Linked DNA regions of Homo sapiens: region 1 is linked to region 2. The links come from fine-mapping of genetic effects on gene expression. A gene starts in region 2. The other region holds a variant in brackets. All regions are shown on one strand. Distances are between the middles of the regions.

The links. PIP is the estimated chance that this variant, and not a neighbour inherited with it, causes the effect.
Region 1: its variant is the best candidate, but not a certain one, in a credible set for the expression of MARK2 in whole blood (TOPMed, PIP 0.67).

What each region holds. Positions count from the first base shown.
Region 1 is chr11:63,883,576-63,888,938 of GRCh38, reverse strand. The region is part of intron 1 of MARK2 (microtubule affinity regulating kinase 2); the gene reads right to left. Among named protein-coding and RNA genes, the nearest start is that of RCOR2, 31 kb to the left of the region's middle. RefSeq lists an enhancer at 313-422. The variant A/C (reference allele first, on the strand shown) is at 3,053.
Region 2 is chr11:63,836,055-63,841,417 of GRCh38, reverse strand. It overlaps MARK2 (microtubule affinity regulating kinase 2), which reads right to left and starts at 2,308. Exons shown (of 19, transcript NM_001039469.3): 1 at 1,858-2,308. The coding sequence starts at 1,911. RefSeq lists a silencer at 1,974-2,213 and enhancers at 2,224-2,373, 2,634-3,622.

The sequences.
Region 1 (5,363 bases), 48 kb before region 2:
CCAGCGACTTCCATTCAGCAGAGCCCACAGCAGAACCTGTCAGGCAGCGAGGGCAAAGTACAGAGGCCGGGAAGAGCCAGGCCTAGGGCGGGGGCTGCCGGCTCAGCCAGCCACCCTTACTCAGCCAGAGCAGGCGACACCTTCCACCACCTCCTCAGTGAAAAGTAGCTAAGCAGCCAGGCCGAGCGGTTCCTGCCTGGGAACCTGGACGGTGTCGCAACCGAAACCACCACTAGCAGAGAGACTGGGTTTGGCAAGGAGAGCAACAGGGACAAAGCCCCGCTGGCTTCTCAAGGGCCAGAGCCTGGTGGTCAGGAAGCGCGTGCAATTCCAGGACAGCACACCAGAAGCAAGGTGGGAGGGAAGGGGCAGGAGGGGAATAGGGCAGGAAGGGAGACAGAGAAAGAGGCGGGTTTAGATCAACTTCCTTCTCCCCTCCCCCTCCCCCCCTCCCCGGAAGTGGGCAGCCCCACCCTCCCCAAGGTGCTTTGCTGGGTAACAGCTGGCGAGAGGTCGAGGAGACTCACTGCAGCCACGGCTGTCATAAAACCCTAGCTCACCTGTGGCAGGTGGGACCTGGGTAGGGGCAGATGACTTTAACAAAGCCTCCAATAGGGCTGGGGAGGAACATGTGTGACTCAGATGTGCTGACCCAGAGTGGCGGCCCTGCCAAAGACCAGCAAACCACCCCCTCAAGAACGAAGTGGGGAGGAGGGTAAGCAGAAACCAGCAAGCTGACAGTGGCGGACGGACCTCCTACTTCCTAAAAAAGCAGTGCTTAACCTTGGAAACATGCACATTCCACTTAGACACAAAATATTTTGAGCATAATTTCAGGGAGTTTGGGGACTCTGTAAAGCCCCCTATGAGGTGTATGTTTTCTAGATTAAGAGCCTTTATCACTGATAGAGCATTCTATCAATGAAAAAATCATATTTAATCCTAGATTTTGCCCAAAAGCTAGAAACAATCCAAATGTCCCTTTTAAGTTCCTTCCAGCCCTGCTTCTGAACGTTCATCCCTAGGTTCTCACTCACCTCCAAGTTTCCAGTCACCAATCCCCTGCCTTACCTTCAAAACAACACTGCTTTCTCAAGGAATTCCAAAGGCCTGGGATTCCTCACACCTTCCTCCTGCTAAGCCCCCACTATCTGGGCACATGGTGAGCACAGGGCAAGCTGGCTGTCTCTCATCTGGAGAAGACTCCCCTTCTAGACCAACGACCCCTGTCTATGTGCTGGTTGCAGCCTTGCCTCTGGTTCTCAGAACAATTTCTCATTCATCCCCTATTCTAGGCTAGGCTCCCTCTCATTAAGGAACTCCGTGACCTTCTCACGTTGGTAGCCATTAACCCTCTAGGGAAGGGCAAAGCTTCCTCTGTGCTCTCACAGCACTTAAGCATATATTCCTGCAAGACCATGCTACTCAGGAGTGGCCAAGAAATGTTTGCCTTACACATGAGCCCTGGCCAACGGATTCAGCATTTCTGATGCTACTGTATGTCCAGCGCTTACACTTTGTTTTCTCCAAACACAGACCTATAGGGTAGGTAGTCTCCCTGTTTTCCATTGAGAAATTGGCATTCAGAGGTTATGAGACTTGCCCAAAATCTCACAGCTTCTCAGTACAGAGCTGGGGCCGGAGCCCAGAGCTTTTGTCACCATTTCAGCACTCTGCTGTTCTTGACAGTCCCCCTTACCAGTTTCTCATCAACCCTTCTTGATGCCTAATCGTGCTCTCATTTCCCCCAAAAGATAAGCCCCTGGCTCCTCCTCCATAAGCTAGGAGGCAGAAGGTATGAAGACTCAGGGAAGGTGCTCGGGACACTGGGAATGACAATGTTTGATTCAGGCCAATGGTGAAGTGCTGTTTAAAGGCCTATCCCAGTGGTCCCACAGCAACCCTTCCTTTTCCCAGCCCCCCAAAAGTGGGCCCTGACTTCAGTGGGCCCACTGGATCCTGGGCTCAAGCTTGCCCGGGCCCTCCGGCCCTTCACTCACTGGTAGACTGAGAACCAGAGCAGGATCAAACAGCTTCATTTTTCTAGTCCCTTCATTTTTCTAGGGCTTTGCAATGTGACAGAAGGACTGTTTCCTCAATCCTATTTGTGGGAGACAGTAAGGGATTTTGTAAACTGAGGAAATACAAAGCACTGACTACAAACAGAAAAGCTGGGAAGAGATAGGGTAGGATTTAGATTAAAAGCCACATGGGGGCCAAGCATGGTGGCCCCCACCATGTAATCCCAGCACTTTGAGAGGCCGAGGCTGGTGGATCACTTGAGGTCAGGAGTTCGAGACCAGCCTAAGCAACATGGCGAAACCCCATCTCCACTAAAAATACAAAAATTTGCTGAGCGTGGTGGCGTACACCTGTAATCCCAGCTACTCGGAGGCTGAGGCATGAGAACTGCTTGAGCCTGGGAGGTGGAGGTTGCAGTGAGCAGAGATTGCACCACTGCACTCCAGCCTGGGCAACAGAGTGAGACTCTGTCTCAAAAAAAAAAAGCCACACGGGGCTGAGCACTGTTGCTCATGCCTTAATCCCAGCACTTTGGGAGGCCAAGGTGGGAAGACGACTTGCGCCTGGGAATTCGAGACAAGCCTGGGCAACAGAGTGAGACCCTCTCTCTCCAAATTCAAAAATTAGCCAGGCATGGTGCCATGGGTCTGTAGTCTCAGCTACTCGGGAGGCTAAGGCAGGATAATCGTTTCAGTCCAGGAGGTGGAGGTAACAGTGAGCTATGATCGTGCCACTGCACTCCAGCTTGGGTGACAGAATTAGACTCTCGTCTCTTTTTTTTTTTTTTTGAGATAGAGTCTCACTCTGTTGCCCAGGTTGGAGTGCAGTGGCGCAATCTCGGCTCACCGCAACCTCTGCTTCCCGGGTTCAAGTAACTCTCCTGCCTCAGCCTCCCGAGTAGCTGGGATTACAGGCGCCCGCCACCACACTCAGCTAATTTTTTTATATTTTTAGTAGAGACGAGGTTTCACCATGTTGGCCAGGATGGTCTCGATCTCCTGGCCTTGTGATCTGCTCACCTTGGCCTCCC[A/C]AAGTGCTGGGATTACAGGTCTGAGCCACTGCACCCGGCCTCTTTTTTTTTTTGAGATGGAGTCTTGCTCTGTCACCCAGGCTGGAGTGCAGTGGTGCGATCTCGGCTCACTGCAACCTCCGCTTCCTGTGTTCCAGTGATTCTCCTGCCTGAGCCTCCCAAATAGCTGGGATTACAGGTGCGTGCCACCACGTCCAGATCATTTTTGTATTTTTAGTAAGATGGGGTTTCACCACCTTGGCCAGGCTAGTCTTGAACACCTGGCCTCAAGTAATCCACCCGCCCCAGCCTCCCAAAGTGCTGGGATTACAGACATGGGCCACTACGCCCAGCCTCTCTTTTTTTTTCAAGACAAGGTATGACTCTATCACCCAGGCTAGAGTGCAGCAGCACGATCTTGGCTCACTACAACCTCTGCCTCCTGGGCTCAATCCATCCTCCCACCTCAGCCTCCCGAATAGCTGCAACTATAGGCCCACAGCAATACGCCCGGCTAATTTTTGTATTTTTTGTAGAGATAGGGTTTTGCAAGCTTGTCCAGGCTGGTACTGAACTCAACAATTCAAGTGAACTGCCCACCTTGGCCTCCCAAAGTGCTGGGATTATAGACATGAGCTACCATTCCCAGCACAAGACTTTGTCTCTTAAGAAAGGTCATGTGCCTGTGGCAAGTCCCTATTTATTTATTTATTTTTAAACAGGGTCTTGCTCTGTTGCCCGGGCTGGAGTGCAGTGGTACGATCTTGGCTCACTGCAATCTTCGCCTCCTGGGCTCAAGTGATCTTCCTCTTGAATACCTGGGGCTACAGGCATGGGCCACCAAGCCCGGCTAATTTTTGTATTTTTTGTACAGACAGGATTTCTCCATGTTGCCCAGGCTGGTCTCGAACTCCCTGGGCTCAAGCAATCCTCTCACCTCGGCCTCCTAAAGTGCTGGGATCACAGGAGTGAGCCACTGCGCATGGCCATATGGGACATCTTGTAACTGGGAGTTGGAGTCCTTTGTTTTTTAACCCTTCCTCCCTCACTGTATCCAGAAACTGTCTTTTCATCCTTTGATTCTGAGCAACTATCGCTATCAACTGCCATGAGCAACTATCGCTATCAACTGCCAAGAGTCAATAAACCAGAGGAGCATTCAGTGTAGGAGAGCTTGTAAAACTGGCAGGCACTCACCAGTGGAAAGCCTGGATGCTCCCACCCCCAAAATTAACTGTGACTGTTCCACTTGAGAAACAGCCATATTCCTTTACTGTCCCATTGTAGATGGGAGGCAGGGGCTGCTCCCTCTTTCCAGCCAGGGTAAGAGCCTCCTTCACAAAGGATAACCAGAAGAGCCTGCAACTTAAGCACAAAGCCAAAACCAAGGTGGTTTACTGCCCTTTAGCTCTCTGAGCTGCAATCCTCACCACAAGGCAGGGAGATCAGCACTGCAGCCTGGGCCATGAGGCGGGGCTCCCCCAGGACTCAAGCCTGCCTGGGAAAAACCTGACATGGCATAAGAGGTGAGAACAGAGAGCAACCTCCAGCTCACTCTCCTTCAGGCCTGGAAGCCACAATGCAAAGAGCACTCTCCAAATCTCCTCTGTCTTCAGAGCCACTTGAAATGCTGGGCTCCTCTTGAAACTAGATTCTACTGAGCAACCAGGGCTTTAGAGGCTTCCAGGACTACTTTCATCCCTGAGAATCTGCTTGCTGGGGTCTGGTCGCTAAATCCCCAGCTACTGTTGCCCTAGCAAACCTTTGTTGAGCAGTACTCTGGAGCCCTGGCTCCAGTTGCAAAGCTCAGTGCGATCTGGCTCCTGCCTTCCAGAAACTTAAAAGAGGTAAACTATACAGAAAACTTACTATAGTCGCTCTGCCCACCTCTGTTGCTTACCAGCTGACTGAACATGAGCAAAGTGACATAACTTCTCCAAATCTGTTTCCTCATTTGGGACATAAAGATACTAGCTGTACCCATTTCACAGAATTAGAGTGAAGATTAAATGAGAAAATCTGGCCGGGCGTGGTGGCTTACACCTCTGATTCCAGCACTTTGGGAGGCCAAGACAGGCAGATCCCTTGAGCCTAGGAACTCGAGGCCAGCCTGGGCAACATGGCAAAACACAGGCTCTACAAAAAAACACAAAAATTAGCCGGGGTGTGGTGACAAGTGCCTGCAATCCCAGCTACTTGGGAGGCTGAGGTGGAAGGATCACCTGAGCCCAGGGAGGTAGGCTGAGGCTGCAGTGAGCCGTGATCACACTGCTGCACTCCAGCCTGGGTGACAGAGTAAGACCCTGTCTCAAAGGAAAAAAAAAAGGAAAAT
Region 2 (5,363 bases):
AACCCAGTGATGAAATGGAAATCAACCATCCCTCCCTCTCAACCCCTATTTCACCCCCAGAAGCAAATAATCCACAAGTAATAAAAGGGTCAACCCTGCAGAGAAAAACTCTGCCTAGAACTTCTCTTTAGTTCCTAACTGCCCAGGTGACAGAGGGCCAGGGGGTAACAAAATAGAAAAACACAGTAAAAGAAAGGAGGTAAGATTTTTCAAAGAAGAATGTTCACATGCAAGAGAATACAACAACTGCTCTACCGGGCTACAAAGAAAGAAGGGAGTAAGAGGGAAACATAAAGGATGGAAGGAGGGGAAAGAAGGCAAAAAGCACAGCAGCCCCGGGGCAGAAGCACTTCTTTTTCAAGTCAAGTTTTTTTGGCCTAGTAAAGTTCTCCACCAAGAAAGGTATGACAGGCAGGGGACTCTGCACAGAGCAGTCAGCAAAGGACGCTAGAGATGGTGAAAGAAAGGGGAGGTGTGGAAAGTGGACGTCTCTGGGATCAAAAGTGAGATGACACAGAAAGGCTAAGACTTGGGTGAAAAACATAGCAGTGACTGCCAGGATGAGGGGGACCGTGTAGAGTCGTGAGGCTGAGGTGTAGCTCAAGAAACTAGCATGCAAAACACCTGGACTTCCTGGGCATTACAGAGACTTAGCCAATAGGAACAGAATGGATCCAAGCACGGTGTGGGGATACACAGGACATGAAGAAGGCAGGAGACTAATGCGGAGATGAAAGGCAACGCTGATTAAAAGGCACAGTAAGGAAGATGGGGTGAGGGTGGAGAAACAGGAAGGCAACAAGCAAGAAAGAAAATACTCTAAGTGCCAGGCACGGGAGTGAAGACACAGAAAGTCATCATGGTTTGTGTTCCAGCGTACGAAGACAGAAAGGCAAAAACTGTGATGCAGCGAGGTCTGGGAAAGGACTGAGCAACAGGTTGTGTTAATACGGTGGGGCCAAGTGTCTTTGGGTTGGGAGAAAGAGCCCAGTAGAAGGCTGGTAGAACACTCACAGAGAGAAACAAGAGGCCCAGGGACCTAAAAGCCAAACCCGAGGGGAAGAGAACAAGAGGGATCCAAAGACTCTGAAGGGAGTGATGATTGGAACCCCAAACGCAACCTGTGGGAAAACTATGCGCATGACAGCTGTGGGGAAACACGGAAGCGACAAATGCCAGCGCCAGGATCCAGGGAGCTCCTGGAGCAAAGAAGGGAAAGTGATGAGCAAAGAGTAGGCGAAGGATTTGGAAAGGTGATGAGGGTGGAGCTGGTGGGTTGCAAGCAAGAGGGAGAGCACAATTTGGAAAACGAAGAAGCAGGGTAGAAAAAGCTGGGGGAACTGCAAGGGGCCAGGGATCGAGAGCGCAGTCCAGGGCAAGGACCCTGAGGGTGATAACCCAGAGACTGGCAGAACCGGTGCGGGCGGAGGGGAAGCGAGGCAGGAGAGACGAAGGGAGAGGTGGACAACGATCTGTGGCAAATCGCGGGGTGCTGCTATTCGAGGAGCGGGAGGGTGGCTGCTTTAAGCGTGGGTGGAGGAAGACCAGAAAGGCCCCTGAGAGAAAAAGGGAAGAGAAAGGGAAGCTGGGGAGGTGACACGGAAGAGCGCAGGAGGGCGGTGAGGGGAGACGGGGGTTGGCAGAAAGACAAGTGTGCAGCTTGGAGTCAGGACGAGGTGGGTCCCAGGTCAGGACTCGGAAGCGGGATGTGCGGAGCCGGAGCCAGGAGCCGGATGACAGGGCAGCCGAGGCTTGCAGGATGGCAGCAGGGGCACGAGGAGAGCAGAAGAGGGAGGAGGCTCCGCAAGGTGCAAAGGGCCCAGCCAGAGAATTCGGGGAGCCCTCGGGGCTCCTTACCTGCTCCGTGTCCCTCTCGTTCAGCGTGGGTAGGGGGGTCCGAGCGCTGGACATGGCGCCGGTATCTCGGGGGAGGGAACCGAGAAGCTTGGAGGAAGGGAGGGAAGGGAAGGCGCGGAGCCCGGCCGGGCGGGGCTTCTCACAGCAGGAGCACCCGCCGCATGGGCCCCGGCCGGGGGTGCGGGGAGGCCGGGCAGCCGCTCACGCCAGCCCGGGGATGCGCCGCTCGGGCTAGGCCGCGCCGGCTCCGAGCGGCTCCGGACCGCACCCCCCCGACCCCCGGCTGGGCTGTGCCGCCTTTCGGCCGGGCCGCGCCGCTCCGCCTACTCTCTGCCGCCGCAGCCGGCCGCCTGCCTCGCTCCTCCCCTGCCCTCAGCGGCACTGCTCCGCGCCCGGCACACAGGCAGCCGCCGCCGGACCTGCTGCTCCCAACATGGCCGCCACCACCGCCGGCCCTCGGCTCTTTTCGCCGGCAGCAGCCGGAAACATCCGAAGCGGCTAGAAACGGGAGGTGGGGCGCGCCTTCTCCTCCCGGCCACAGACTACGGGTGAATTCCGGAAACAGCCGAAGAAGGTAAACCCCGGGGACGCGCTCTCCTCCTCGATTCCGAAGACGAAGCTTCGGCTCTGTTTACGGAAATCCACGAAGCGACCCCGGGTGCCTACCCCCCGCCCCCGTCCACGGCCATCCAGCCACGCCCACCGGCCTTTCCCCGCCCACTTCAAGGGGGCTTTCGGCAGTTTCCGGAAATACCCGAAGCTGCTCCGCGTGCTGAGCCGGCCACGCCCCCTCCCACAGCCCTGCCGAGGGCGGTCGTCGGCCATTTCCGGCAACACCCGAGGCCCTCCGAGCACCCGGTCGTTTCCCCGGGTGGCTCTCGGAGTCTGATTCGCTTCGTGTCTTTCCGTCAGTTTTCGGGCATTTTCAAACCTTGAACAGGAAGCGTGGGTCACCTGTCTGTGCTTGTGATTTGACTAAATACAAAACAAGATTGTTAGCCGTCCCTGTGATTGGCATCCTCTGGTTCTATAGCAGCTTCCTGTCTGCATTTCTGTCCATCTGTCGGTCAGCTCATAAAATTCATCTTCTTTTTATCATCTAGCCTATCAATATACCTGTCAAATGCAGCATCAGTCTATTGCCTGTCTGCCACCGTCTATCTTGGCTTCTGTGGATTCATCCGTGCATTCCCGCATCTAGTCCGCAGGGCTCGGCAAGGCCCCAGGCAGGCCCAGGGCAGCGTCCTCTGCACCGGATGCGGGAGCGTCCAGGGCCCTGCATTTCAGCCCCAGCTCTGCCAAGTGCCAATGCTGCGTGATCTTGGAAAAATCACATAACATCACTGAGTTTAGGCTCCTCTTTCCTTTGCCTTTGCTCCTGCGTTGACATTCAAAATGACATTTCTGAATTCCAGTTACCTTTTAAAATGCCTCTGCAAGATAAGGCATTTAAAGTTTCTTTTCTTTCCTCCTCTGGGCCTCATTTTCCCCATCAGTAAAGTGAAGCCATTGGATTCATGAACTCGGAGGTCCTTCTCAGCTTTGGAGAGCCCTTGACTAACAGGAAGTCTGTATGGCAACTGCAGTCCATTCCTCACTTCCCCTTACACTGCGTTACCAAGGACAGGGAGTATCCTGGGCTGATTTCCCCAGCGCCAAGCTGTCCTCACCCATAGTACCTGGAACACGTTGGAACCACACCCTCCCATCAGTGGCTTAAGGTGGGCAGGAGGCAGAGGCCCCGCAGGAGTCAGAAACCAGACTCAGGCAACAGGTTCCCAAAGGTACAGGAGCAGAGAGGCTCCAGGAGTTATTGGGAAAACTGCTGATTGGACCCCTGCTACTTGACCTCCAACTCCCAGCTACAGCATCTTGAGCCAGCCTTCATCCCATCAATCAGAGAAATAGGCATCTGAGCAGATGTAATTACCAGGGTATGAAAGTACTTCCTAAGGCAACAGGTATCACTACACTCTTAGTAAATCCTGGGACTTCAGCACTGCTCCCCATGCCCCATACCAGCTCTATTCAGGCACCCAACCGTTGAGGAAGAAGGTGAAGGCACACCCATGAAGGTGAGGGAAAGAGAGAAGAGGAGGACAGAGAACACCTCACTCCCCAACCCAAATTCGATCCTTGAGAATCATCTGCCCTCTGGTGGCCAAAGGGAGACACGTTGCTGATTCCTGTGCCTGGTATCACCTCTAATGCCAGGGTCTGGAAAGCAGGGAAAAGAGAGAGGAAGCAGTTGGTGGTTGGTGTTCCAGCAGTCTCTCCCTGGTCCACACTCTCGTCTAAATAGACTCCATCTTCTCCAAGCTTCTCACTCTAGCTCTAACCCCTGCCTCACCCCTGCCCTTTGACCTTCATCCCCAACCCCTACCCTACCTATCCTTTCTCTTCCTTGCTAGCTTTGCACAAGGCTGCTGAGCTTGTCTCCCCGCCTAGACTCCCTCCAACCTACTGCACCAGACATGTCAGAATAATCTTCCCAAAGTCCAGCTCCAATAACATCTCTGCTCTGCTAGAAAGCTATCACCAGCTCCCTCACTGGTTATAGGCAGGGCTGGCTTCTTGGGCCCACGACCCCATGCAGTCACACAGAGCCCTGTGCTCAGGTGGACCCTGAGCTTGGATTAATGCTCTGCTGTCACCATCTTGAAATTTTTTTTTTTAAGACTGAATCTCGCTCTATCTCCCAGGCTGGAGTGCAGTGGTGCGATCTCAGCTCACTGCAACCTCCACCTCCCAGGTTCAAGTGATTCTCATGCCTCAGCCTCCTGAATAGCTGGGATTATAGGTGCCCACCACCACACCCGGCTAATTTTTTGTGTTTTTAGTAAAGACAGGGTTTCACCATGTTGGCCAGTTTGGTCTAGAACTCCCAACCTCAAGTGATCCACCTGCCTCGGCCTCCCAAAGTGCTGGGATTACAGGCGTGAGCCACCACGCCCGGCCCATTATCTTGAAATTTTTGACCAAGGGGGCCATGCATTTCCATTTTGCACTGTGCCCCACAAATTATGTAGCTGGTCCTGGCTGTAGGAAAAGCCTTTAGCCTGCATTTAAAACTTTGCTCAATCTGGCCTCACATTGCCTTACAATAACCTCTCCAACTATCACTGATCACACTTCTCCCTAACTCCTACCCCGCTGCCAGTCTCTCTCACTTCCATGCCTTTGGTCAAGCTGATAGATGATTGCCCATCATCCACCTCAGCTTCCAGAACCACTTCAAGATCCAGTTCAAATCTCACCTACTCAAATCCATGAACCCTCCTAGTTCTCCTCAAAGATGAATTATTGCCACACATTTACCCCCTCTCTAAATCTGCAAATTCATTTATTCATTCAGCAAATCCCTACTGAGCACCTACTATGTGCAAGGCATTGTTTTAGGCTTTTAGGTAGATCAGTGAACAAGATAAAGATCTCTGCCTGCCAGGCGCGGTGGCTCATGCCTGTAATCCCAGCACTTTGGGAGACCAAGGTGAGGGGATCATGTG